Linked DNA regions of Homo sapiens. The protein of the gene in region 1 purifies or fractionates together with the protein of each later gene. This does not show direct contact. Each region holds a gene or a part of one and is shown on either strand. Other genes may lie near its edges. The genes, in order: NPEPPS, TCEAL8 and TIMP2.

Region 1 (3,511 bases):
AAAGTGCTGGGATTACAGGCATGAGCCACCATGCCCAGCCAAGACCTCTTTTTCTTGATAGCTTTATTTTTGGAGGATTTTCTCTTTGTCAAATTCCTCGTTAAATACATTTATAAGATTATCTACTTCTTTTAATTTAGAGAGGTAAATTGACAAGTTTAATAGATTTATAGTAACTAAAAGCAAAAGGTCTTGGGCTGGATATGGTGGCTTACACCTGTCATCCCAGCACTTTGGGAAGTCAAGGTAGGCAGATCGCTTGAGGTCAGGAGTTGAAGACCAGCCTGGCCAACATGGTGAAAACCTGTCCTTACTAAAAATACAAAAATTATCTGAGTGTGGTTGCACACACCTGTAGTCCCAGCTAGTTGGGAGGCCGAGGTGGGAGGATCACTTGAACCCAGGAAGCGGAGTTTGTAGTGAGCTGAGATCACACCACTGCACTCCAGCCTGGGTGACAGAGCCAGACCCTATCTCAGAAAAAAAAAAAAGAAAAAGGTCTTGACTTATTAAATGTCATAAGAAAGCCAGGTACAGTGACTCTTGCTTGTAATCTCAGTGCTTTGGGAGGCTAAGGCAGGAGGATTGCTTGAGGCCAGGAGTTTGACACCAGTCTGGGCAACATAGTGAGACCTCATTTCTACAAAAGATTTAAAACTTAAAAGTTAGCCAGGTATGGTGGCACGTGTCTGTAATCCTAACTACTTGGGAGGCTAATGTGGGAGGATCTCTCGAACTTAGGAGTTTGAGGCTACAGGGAGCCGTGATTGTGCCACTGTATTCCAGCCTGGGTGACAGAACAAGACCCCATCTCTTAAAAAAAAAAAAATAGGCCAGGCATGGTGGCTCATGCCTGTAATCCCAGCACTTCAGGAGGCTGAGGCAGGTGGATCATTTGAGGCCAGGAGTTCGAGACCAGCCTGGCCAACATGGTGAAACCCCATCTCTACTAAAAATACAAAAATTAGCCAGATATGGTGGCAGGCACCTGTAACCCCAGCTACTTGGGAGGCTGAGGCAGGAGAATTGCTTGAACCTGGGAGGTGGAGGCTGCAGTGAGTTGAGATCGCGCCACTCCACTCCAGCCTGGGTGACAGAGCAAGACTCCATCTCGGGGGAAAAAAAAAAAAAAGGTTGCAACAGAGCAAGACCCTGTCTCTTATGTTTTTAAAAAGTTAAAAAAATTCAAAAGATGTAGCTGCGTAATGAAGTATATTTAGGTCTCTGGCTGTTTGTATTCTTGGAATGTATTCTCTTCACCAGTGTTATTGATCTCATTCATGAACAGGGTAAGCATTCCCCACTTGAAGTGTGTTGTCTAGGACTGTCTTGTGTGGGGAACTTGGAAAAACCTGCTGCACCTGAAAATAACTCTTTTATGTATTTATTGGGGGAGAGCATCCCATAAATAGAATGTCATTCTCTTCTCACATATTCTTAGAAGAGGAGGCTAATATATTAAACGGAAATATTCATTCACACTTTAGTATGAGTGAATTTATCAGTGTGTTCTTGAATAAGTCTTCCTTGGAAGGAAGAATAGAGAGAGCTTGAGGAAACAGAGCCTGAATAGGAAAAAGAGGGAGAACACCAAAGGAAATTAGGGACTCCAAAGGTAAAGTTGAAATTTCTTCACAAATAAGCTTAGAGCCAACTTTGGTAGAGAATGCCCTCGATCTAGAAGTTTGTATCCTTTGAAATGGGAGATTCTACAATTATATTATATTTATTTATTTTTGAGAAGGAGTCTCGCTGTGTCGCCCAGGCTGGAGTGCAGTGGTGTGATCCCAGCTCACTGCAAGCTCCGCCTCCCTAGTTCACGACATTCTCCTGCCTCAGCCTCCCAAGTAGCTGGGATTACAGGCACCCCCCACCATGCCTGGCTAATGTTTTGTATTTTTAGTAGAGATGGGGTTTCACCATGTTAGCCAGGATGGTCTTGATCTCCTGACCTTGTGATTCGCCTGCCTAAGCCTCCCAAAGTGCTGGTATTACAGGCGTGAGCCACCGCGCCTAGCCCCTATTTTATTTTTATTAATAGTCATTTTCTCCTAAACTTATGTCAGTTGAAAAGTATGAAGCCCTTAACTTAAATCATCCCAATGCCTGGCTTATAATAAGTATTTGAGAAAAGTCCATTCCTCTTTTCTTTCACAGGTCCTTGGTAGTTTTAACACTTCAGCCTCCAGCTTCTTAGTATGAGTGTTTTATCAGACCACTTTCCTTCTTAAAGACAGCATAAAAGCACTGGATGAATTGGGGTAGAGAAATAAGCCATGCTAGAATAGAAAGGGGTAAAGAGATGCAATAAAGCCTACAGTTTTTGGCTGGTATTTGCTCTATGGTATTAATGTAAACCTATTTAAATTTTTCTTTTTTTTATTTCTTAAAGAATGTAATTGACCGGAAACCATACCCTGATGATGAAAATTTAGTGGAAGTGAAGTTTGCCCGCACACCTGTTATGTCTACATATCTGGTGGCATTTGTTGTGGGTGAATATGACTTTGTAGAAACAAGGTCAAAAGATGGTGTGTGTGTCCGTGTTTACACTCCTGTTGGCAAAGCAGAGCAAGGAAAATTTGCGTTAGAGGTAAATGTACTTGAAGAGGATTGTTCCAACAGTCCATAACTCCAGGTTGGGGAATTTACATTTCTGGTCAATTATTAGTACAGTTATTTATAATTTAATCTGAAAGTTGTGCTACTTGGTTTATTTTTAGTAGAATTTAGGAAATGCCAACCTTGGTGTTTCATTATTTTACAAAATAATAATTAAGAGAATATAAGAGTGGAATTTCTCTAGGGAATGGGTTGGAAAATATGTAGTTATATTTTTCATATCAAGTTATAAATGGATTAAAGTTTGGCCATTGTATTCAAAGTTTGGAGCTAAGGCAGTCTTCGGAGGGTAGGGCTCCTCGGGATTCATTTCTAGTAATTTAAGATACATTGGCTTGCAACAGGATTCCTTTGTGGGTTTCAATATGAATTATAATAACATATTTATTAGATGGTTATTTTGTTTATACTTTTATAGGTTGCTGCTAAAACCTTGCCTTTTTATAAGGACTACTTCAATGTTCCTTATCCTCTACCTAAAATTGATCTCATTGCTATTGCAGACTTTGCAGCTGGTAAAGTAAATTTCATTTTATTGCTGAATTGTAATAACTTTTTAAAATTTTGTGACTTTTGATGCAAGAGTATATATATATATATATATATCAATAAATGTTTATATTTATTTTGTGAAGGTGCCATGGAGAACTGGGGCCTTGTTACTTATAGGTATGTTAATGATGTGTTACCCTGCCTTATCTTTTCAAATCACTGATTTCAAAAGGGCTTCCCTCCTAATCACAGTTGAGTAGCTTCTGCTTTACGATATGGTGTAAATTTTTCTACCTTCCCCCACTTCCGTGCACATTTCAAGAATGCAGATGGACACCCCTCCCTTTGGTGCTACTGTCTGAGGGTGTAAGATTTTAAAGTGAGCATCTGGCGGTAG
Region 2 (3,819 bases), on another chromosome or scaffold:
CACAAAGTCCATTTTGCTGCTGATGATTTTTCTTTTAAAAGATCAGAGTTGTTCCTCACTAAATGGTTACATTTAAAAGAGTGGAAACATTTGGTGATAGGCAATGATTAAATCTTTATAATTTGCTAGTTATATTTATATTAAAAGCTCTCTCTCAAACAATAGAACATTTATCCCTCAAGTGTGGAAGAAATTTGTCATGCTTCAACTATAAATCATTAAGTCCAAAAAATATTTATTTTTTCCAAACCTTCTTTTCTCTTCTCTGGTGGGTGTTCTTGTTGGCTAAGGCATCCTGCTGTGACCACCCTAGACAAAAGACCCCCTCTGTCTTCTTCTGACTCTCCAGCTGGCTCCATTGGCCAGAATGCCACTCCAGGCACCACCATCCTTCCAAGTACCAGTGGATTCTGAGTTGCAGGGATATCAGTTTCCTGTTTAATATTATTTTTTACAGCAATGTTGTTCTCTTTGCTTTCTAATCATAACAATTATGCATGTCAATAGTTCTTTTAATGGGACACAGTGGATGATACCAGACTATCTCAAGAGTGCCATGAATGAAAATGCCATGCAAAGAAGCCTCAAGCCTGATGGTGAGATACAGAGAATTCTCTTTTCTGAGTGTTTCATGAGTGTATGAGTTATTTCCCAACAACGAAATGTTTTCCAAGAAACATACTACTTTGAGTTCCAAAAGAATTTTACTCAGTGGAAAGCAGGCTTTTCTGTGGACTTATCTGATTAACAAGATACTGAATCCTATAGAGGAAATGGGGAGGAAGTCTGTCTGAAGCCTCCAAGTGAAACCTTAGTGGATGCCACCAGTGGTCATCAATGAAAAAGATCAGACATCCAACACTTGATAACTTGAGTTCTGCCAGAAATAGAAAGAGTAGTAGATTACCTATACAAAATTGCTAACAAGAGAAAACTAGGCCTCCTTCCACACATTAATTTGGGAGTCAATTTTTTAAGTGCTGTTTGGTAAGATTTTAAAAAATTCTAACACATCAATATGTTGTGAATATTGTCATTTCATTTCCAGCCATTAGAAAACTTTTCCAAAGTCTTACACATTGATATAACTAATTTGTCCTTCATATTAAGTGTTACATATTGCTTATGAGGCATCCGTTTTCTGATACCATTTTTAAAAGTATGCTGATTGCTGAAAACATAGAACACAACAGAAAACTATTCAAGAGGATTAGTCAAATCCTCCACTTTCAACCTTAGATTCTTTTCCAGCCCCCTCTTCCCGATCTACCACCTTTGCCCATTTCAATGCTGGATAGGATTCCAGGGGAAATGGTGGACTGTAGGGGTCTTGGAGGAGGGGAGGTGGGAGTATTGGGAGCAGAAGAAAGAGATGATTCCTCAAAGAAGGAGAAATGGTCGATTACCCCTAAAAGGCTGATCCTCCTGGTAATCTGAGAAAGGCGAATAAATACTCCAGGGCGAAGATAACAGTTTATTGTCTCCGATTGGCAAATACGAAAAAAGATTGACAGTATCAAGTGGAGGGAACGCAGCGGGCGGGCTGCAGTGTTAATGGGAGGGGTAACTGGGGACTCGAGCTCAGTGATGACGCGACTCTCACGTGACCAGGAGTCGACGTGTGCAGAAGTCCTTATAGTCCAGGGCCTGTTTCCCTGTAGCAGCTCCTTATTGCTGGAGAAGGAGAAAAGTGCCCAAGATCCTTTCAGGTTAGTATAAACGTGGGCGCTGACTTGGAGACCCTGGGGTCGAGGAGGCCGAGAGCAGAAAGCAAGCGGGGCCGGCACTGCTTTCCCCACTTCTGTTCCGCCAAACTCCCATTTTGTGCAGGAAATTTGGGGCTGTTTGGTGGGGGATGGCGGGTGGAGAGAGAGAAGGGTAGCTAATTAAGGGTCCTGAGAGAGAGACATAGAAACTGTTTGGAAGAAACTTGCTTTTCCTACTCCCTGCTTGCAGAAAAACGGTGGGCACGGAGGAGGGCGGGGTTGCCATAAAAGGAGGGCGAGGATGAGGACATGGGAAACTTTACACCAACATGGCCTAGAATCATGAAAGGGACCCGTGATCCAGGTACTAGTCTGCTCACCAAACACTCCCATCTGTCTGCAGGATATTTGGTTTTTTGGGCGCGACACAAATCGAGGTGAGGGAAGAGAGAGGAAAATCCCCTGAATCCCTGCAGGTCAGTTTTTGTAAAGGTGCAATTGCTTCAGGTCTCTTCGGGTGGGGGTGGAAGTGTGAGTGACACCAAAGCACATCCTGGGGTCGCAGCAGCCCCTCCCCATCCGGATTAAGTGCCAGAGGCCGGTGCCGAGCCTGCAGCGGAAATGAGGCGGGGGAGGAGGAGGCTTAAGAGACGCTGAAGGGGGAGGGGAGGCCAGAGACTGGACCAGCCGTCTCAGGTGAGAGGCTGGAGGTTGAGAGGGCCTGGGAAAGTCTGAAGGGCGGGAGTGTTGGAGACCAGAGGCGGGAGAAGGGTTAATTGCTTCCGTACTGCTCCCATTTCAGTATTAGGAGAGGCTTGTAGCAGGGCCTGCTGGGAAGATGGTGGGCAGGAGCAGGAGGAGAAAGATGGAGCTGGAACGAAAGGGGGCGCGAAGGGAGGTGGAGTCAGGGGAGTTCTGAGCCTGAGGATCCAGCTTTCTCTAGTTGGAAAACTTTTGACAATTAGGGTACTGAGTCAAAAAAGGCCAGTCGCTATGGGACCCCATACTCTGACTGCTGGTCTGTTTGCCTGGAATCTAGTAGTTTTGTTTCCTTGTTTTCTAGGATTAATTTATTCAAAAAGGAAATAAAAAATACTCAATATGCAAAAGTCTTGTGAAGAAAATGAGGGAAAACCACAGAACATGCCAAAGGCCGAGGAAGATCGCCCTTTGGAGGATGTACCACAGGAGGCAGAAGGAAATCCTCAACCTTCCGAAGAAGGCGTAAGCCAGGAAGCAGAAGGAAACCCCAGAGGAGGGCCGAATCAGCCTGGCCAGGGATTTAAAGAGGACACACCCGTTAGGCATTTGGACCCTGAAGAAATGATAAGAGGAGTAGATGAGCTTGAAAGGCTTAGGGAAGAGATAAGAAGAGTAAGAAACAAGTTTGTGATGATGCATTGGAAGCAAAGACATTCACGCAGCCGTCCTTATCCTGTGTGCTTTAGGCCTTGAATTCATTTTTGCCTAATATTAAAATCTGGCCCCAGCTTTCTTTCTGTTAGCATTTTCTGATGTATCTTTGACCTCCATTTTACTTTTAATCATCTGATGAAATTTTGTTTTAGGTAATTTCCTTGGTACCAGCATCTCATTGGATTTTGGATTTTGACCCATTTTCCAGGTCTATTTTTCAATTGGAAACTTTCACACATTTGCATGGGAATATGTTCATTCCATGTTGTAAAGTAAAACATAACAGGTTATGGCAAAGCAGCATATTTAATATCAGCTCACATATGTAGGATAAAATTCCAAACTTTGTGTGTGTGCGTGTGTGTATACATACATCCATATAACATATATCACAAACTTAACCAAGCTTATTTCTGTGTGGTGTGAAATTTTATTTGTTTTCTTCTTTTTGTTCTTTTTGCTTATATGTACTTTTTAATGAACACGTGTCTCACACACAAAAAGAATTAAGGATTTTTTTTACAAGTAAGAGTCAAATAATTTGCAACCAGCTTATGAGGGCAATGGGGGCACCTAAACTCTTGATGAAAGAACTTTAAAAAGAAATGTAAACCTCAAATTACCTCTGGATCTCTTAGCCAGAGGAATAAACTGGCAATTATTACAGATACACACGTTTAAGACTCAGTCTTTTCAT
Region 3 (3,719 bases), about 31 Mb from region 1:
AACATGGTGAAAATCCATCTCTACAAAAAACCAGCCAGGCATGGTAGCGCCCACCTGTGGTCCCAGCTATTCGGGAGGCTGAGGTGGGAGAATCGCTTAAGCCCAGGAGGCAGAGGTTGCAGTGAGACATCTCACCACTGTATTCCAGCCTGGGTGACAGAGTGAGAGCTTGTATTAAAAAAAAAAAAAAAAAATATGTGGCAGGGAGGGCAGGGAGGGCAGGGCCTGGCCTGGGGCAGGAGAGGTGATGCTATTGTCATTGACAGTAACTAACATGGTCTGTAAGAGAGACGAAAATTCATGTCGCAGGTGGAGGGACAGCCGTGTGATATGGTGGTAGTTGTAGTCATCGATATTTAATTTTGTCATTAAAAATAAAAAGTAAACCAGGCACAGTGTCTCATGAGTATAGTCCCAGGTGAGTGGATCACCTGAAGTCAGGAGTTCAAGACCAGCCTGGCCAACATGGAGAAACCCCATGTATCTACTAAAAATACAAAAATTAGCTGGGCGTGGTGGCGAGTGCCTGTGATCCCAGCTACTTGGGAGGCTGAGGCAGGAGAACACTTAAACCTGGGAGGCAGAGGTTGCCGTGAGCTGAGATTGCACCACTGCATTCCAGCCTGTGCGACAAGAGCGAAACTCCATCTCAAAAAAAGAAAAAAAAAAAAGTAGCTGAAAATCAATGTTATCAGAAGGTCAGTGGAATGCTTCATCATCACATGTATGTCAGTTTAAGGGGATGACCTAGTCTCTCAGTGCCTGAGTCTCTTTCTTTACGAAGCAGGAAAGAGGATCTGCTCTTACGACCTCATAAAGGGGTCGTGAAAAGGCCAGTGCCAGTGCCCAGGAAATGCTTTTAGCCTTTTGGCAAATGATGTCATTTAGTACAGCATCAACATAACCTTTCCTGGTACAAGCTGGAGTGTCACTCTCAAGCCATTTGTCATGACATCAGGCATGCTTCCATTCCATTTGGGTTTGCTTATTGAAACTCTTCGGGGGGAAAAAAACAGCCTCCCTGAGTGCTGAGAAAATGCCATTCTTCACCTGGGCAGCAGGTGCGTTCCTGAAAGGCTGTGAGTAAATCACATGTTGAGAAAGCAAACTCTTCTGGCCCATGGAGTTATGTCCTAATTCCTGAGGTGCCTCTCTGCTCTCATTGCCATCAAGTAGACAATATTTGACCAAAATTCCTGGAAATATAGGTTGGGTGGAGTGACTTATGCCTGTAATCCCAGAACTTTGGGAGGCCGAGGCAGGAGGATTGCTTGAGCTCAGGAGTTTGAGACCAGCCTGGGTAATAGAGCGAGACCTCGTCTCTGCTAATTAAAAAAAAAAAAAAGCCAAGCATGGTGGCATGCGCCTATAGTCCCAGCTACTCGGGAGGCTGAGGTGGGAGGATCACTTGAGCCTGGGAAGTTGAGGTTGCAGCCCCAGCCTGAGCAACAGAGTGAGACCCTATCTCAAAAAAATAAAAAATTCCTGGAAATATGCAAAAGTCATGGTCCTTCATGGTGGTCCAGAGTCACGTGGAGGTACAAAAGCCCCTCCCCATAGATTCAGAAATGACCTCTTTGGGGTGGGGGGTGAGGGAACAGAGGTGTTGTCTGAGGATGTCATGCTCCAGATGACAGTCTTTTTTTTTTTTTTTGAGATGGAGTCTTGCTGTCTCCCAGGCTGGAGCGCAGTGGCACGATCATGGCTCACTGCAAGCTCCGCCTCCTGGGTTCACGCCATTCTCCTGCCTCAGCCTCCCGAGTAGCTGGGACTACAGGCGCCCGCCACCACGCCCAGCTAAATTTCTGTATTTTTAGTAGAGACAGGGTTTCACCATGTTAGCCAGGATGGTGTCGATCTTCTGACCTCGTGATCTGCCTGCCTCGGCCTCCCAAAGTGCTGGGATTACTGGTGTGAGCCACTTCGCCCGGCACAGATGAGTCTTGTGCTCACCTGCTGTGATCTGCCACACTAAAAGTTGAGTGACTCCAAAGAATCACTTTGCTATAAGAAGTCTTTTTCTTTTCTTTTTTTTTTTTTTTTTTTTTGACGGAGTCTTACTCTGTCATACAGGTAGGAGTACAGTGGCGCCATCTCAGCTCACTGCAACCTCCACCTCGCAGGTTCAAGCGATTCTCCTGCCTCAGCCTCCCACATAGCTGGGATTACAGGCGCTTGCCACCATGCTCAGCTAATTTTTGTATTTTTAGTAGAAACAGGGTTTTGCTACGTTGGCCAGGCTGGTCTCAAACTCCTGACCTCAAGCGACCTGCCCACCTCAGCCTCCCAAAGTGCTGGGACTACAGCCATGAGCCCTGAGCCCAGCTGGAACGGTCTTTTCCTAACCCATGTATTTGCACTTCCTGGTCCTCTTGGGTGCTGGCTGTACCCCAGCTACAGGTTGTGCCGCCCAGGGTGTTCTGGATGGGAACGGAATTCACCAACTGTGTGGCCTCCCTCTGCTTACATGTCCTCCTCCTTGTCTTTCCAGATGTTCAAAGGGCCTGAGAAGGATATAGAGTTTATCTACACGGCCCCCTCCTCGGCAGTGTGTGGGGTCTCGCTGGACGTTGGAGGAAAGAAGGAATATCTCATTGCAGGTGTGTATGAGTGGGGCCATCAGCCGGAGGCTGGCACAGAAGTGGGGCTGTTCCTAGACGCGGTCCAGGGCTCGTTTCCCAGGCTCGGGGGGTGGGGAGGCGGAGTAGCTGAGGAACAGTGAGGCAGGGTACGGAGCCCTCTCGGCCACTTCCCGTCAGAGAATGCTAGTGAATGTTCACTACCTGCCAATTTCCTGGGAAATTTGAGATTGGTGGACAAAAAAAAGGGAGCATTTTTGCCTTTTGTTCCTAAAAGGGAGGCGAGTGCGGGATGCTGGAGACATGCAGGGCAGAGAAACCCTTTCTGCCGTCGGGAGGGCCAAAAGCTCGCGTAACATCTGTGGATACTATGCACGAGACCTGCTTGACTTATTCATTCATCTGTCTCCTTTTTTTATTGTGGTAAAATAATACGTAACAAAATGTAGCCATGTTAATTAACCATTTTCTTTCTTTCTTTCTTTCTTTCTTTCTTTTTTTTTGAGACAGAGTGTCGCTCTGTCGCCCAGGCTGGAGTGCAGTGGTGCGATCTTGGCTTACTGCAACCTCCACCTCCTGGGTTCAAGCGATTCTCCTGCCTCAGCCTCCCGAGTAGTTGGGATTACAGGCACACGCCACCACGCCCAGCTAATTTTTGTATTTTTAGTAGAGATGGGGTTCTACCGTGTTGGTCAGGCTGGTCTCGAACTCCTGACCTCAGGTGATCCACCCACCTCGGCCTCCCAAAGTGGCAGGATTACAGGCGCGAGCCACCGCGCCCGGCCAACCATTTTCAAGTGTACACTTCAGTGGCATTAGATACATTCGCTATTGTGCAACCATCACCACCATCTGTCTCCACATCTTCCCAAACCAAAACTCCGTCCCCGTTAAACACTAACTCCCCCTTCTCTCTTCCTCAGCCTTGGCCCACCTCCATTTTACTTTCTGTCTCTGTGGATTTGACTACTCCAGGGGCCTCACATGGGTGGAACCCTGCAGTGTTTGTCCTCTCTGTCTGGCTTATTTCAGTAGCATCATGTTTTCAAGGTTCGTTCACGTTACAGCATACATCAGAATTTCCTTACTCTTTTTTTTGTTTTTGAGACAGAGTCTCGCTCTATTTCCCAGGCTGGGGTG

The links.
Region 2: the proteins of NPEPPS (region 1) and TCEAL8 purify together in Homo sapiens (affinity purification with mass spectrometry; one large-scale study listed by BioGRID and IntAct). This does not show direct contact.
Region 3: the proteins of NPEPPS (region 1) and TIMP2 purify together in Homo sapiens (co-immunoprecipitation; one large-scale study listed by IntAct). This does not show direct contact.

Annotation. Positions count from the first base shown.
Region 1 is NC_000017.11:47,583,108-47,586,618, forward strand, and holds part of NPEPPS (puromycin-sensitive aminopeptidase), read left to right. Parts: intron 1-2,392; coding exon 2,393-2,593; intron 2,594-3,040; coding exon 3,041-3,137; intron 3,138-3,257; coding exon 3,258-3,291; intron 3,292-3,511. UniProt on the Homo sapiens protein: Aminopeptidase with broad substrate specificity for several peptides. Involved in proteolytic events essential for cell growth and viability. May act as regulator of neuropeptide activity.
Region 2 is NC_000023.11:103,252,968-103,256,786, reverse strand, and holds TCEAL8 (transcription elongation factor A protein-like 8), read left to right. Parts: upstream 1-1,631; 5' UTR 1,632-1,709; intron 1,710-2,109; 5' UTR 2,110-2,182; intron 2,183-2,769; 5' UTR 2,770-2,807; coding exon 2,808-3,161; 3' UTR 3,162-3,792; downstream 3,793-3,819. UniProt on the Homo sapiens protein: May be involved in transcriptional regulation.
Region 3 is NC_000017.11:78,869,779-78,873,497, reverse strand, and holds part of TIMP2 (metalloproteinase inhibitor 2 precursor), read left to right. Parts: intron 1-2,491; coding exon 2,492-2,600; intron 2,601-3,719. UniProt on the Homo sapiens protein: Complexes with metalloproteinases (such as collagenases) and irreversibly inactivates them by binding to their catalytic zinc cofactor. Known to act on MMP-1, MMP-2, MMP-3, MMP-7, MMP-8, MMP-9, MMP-10, MMP-13, MMP-14, MMP-15, MMP-16 and MMP-19.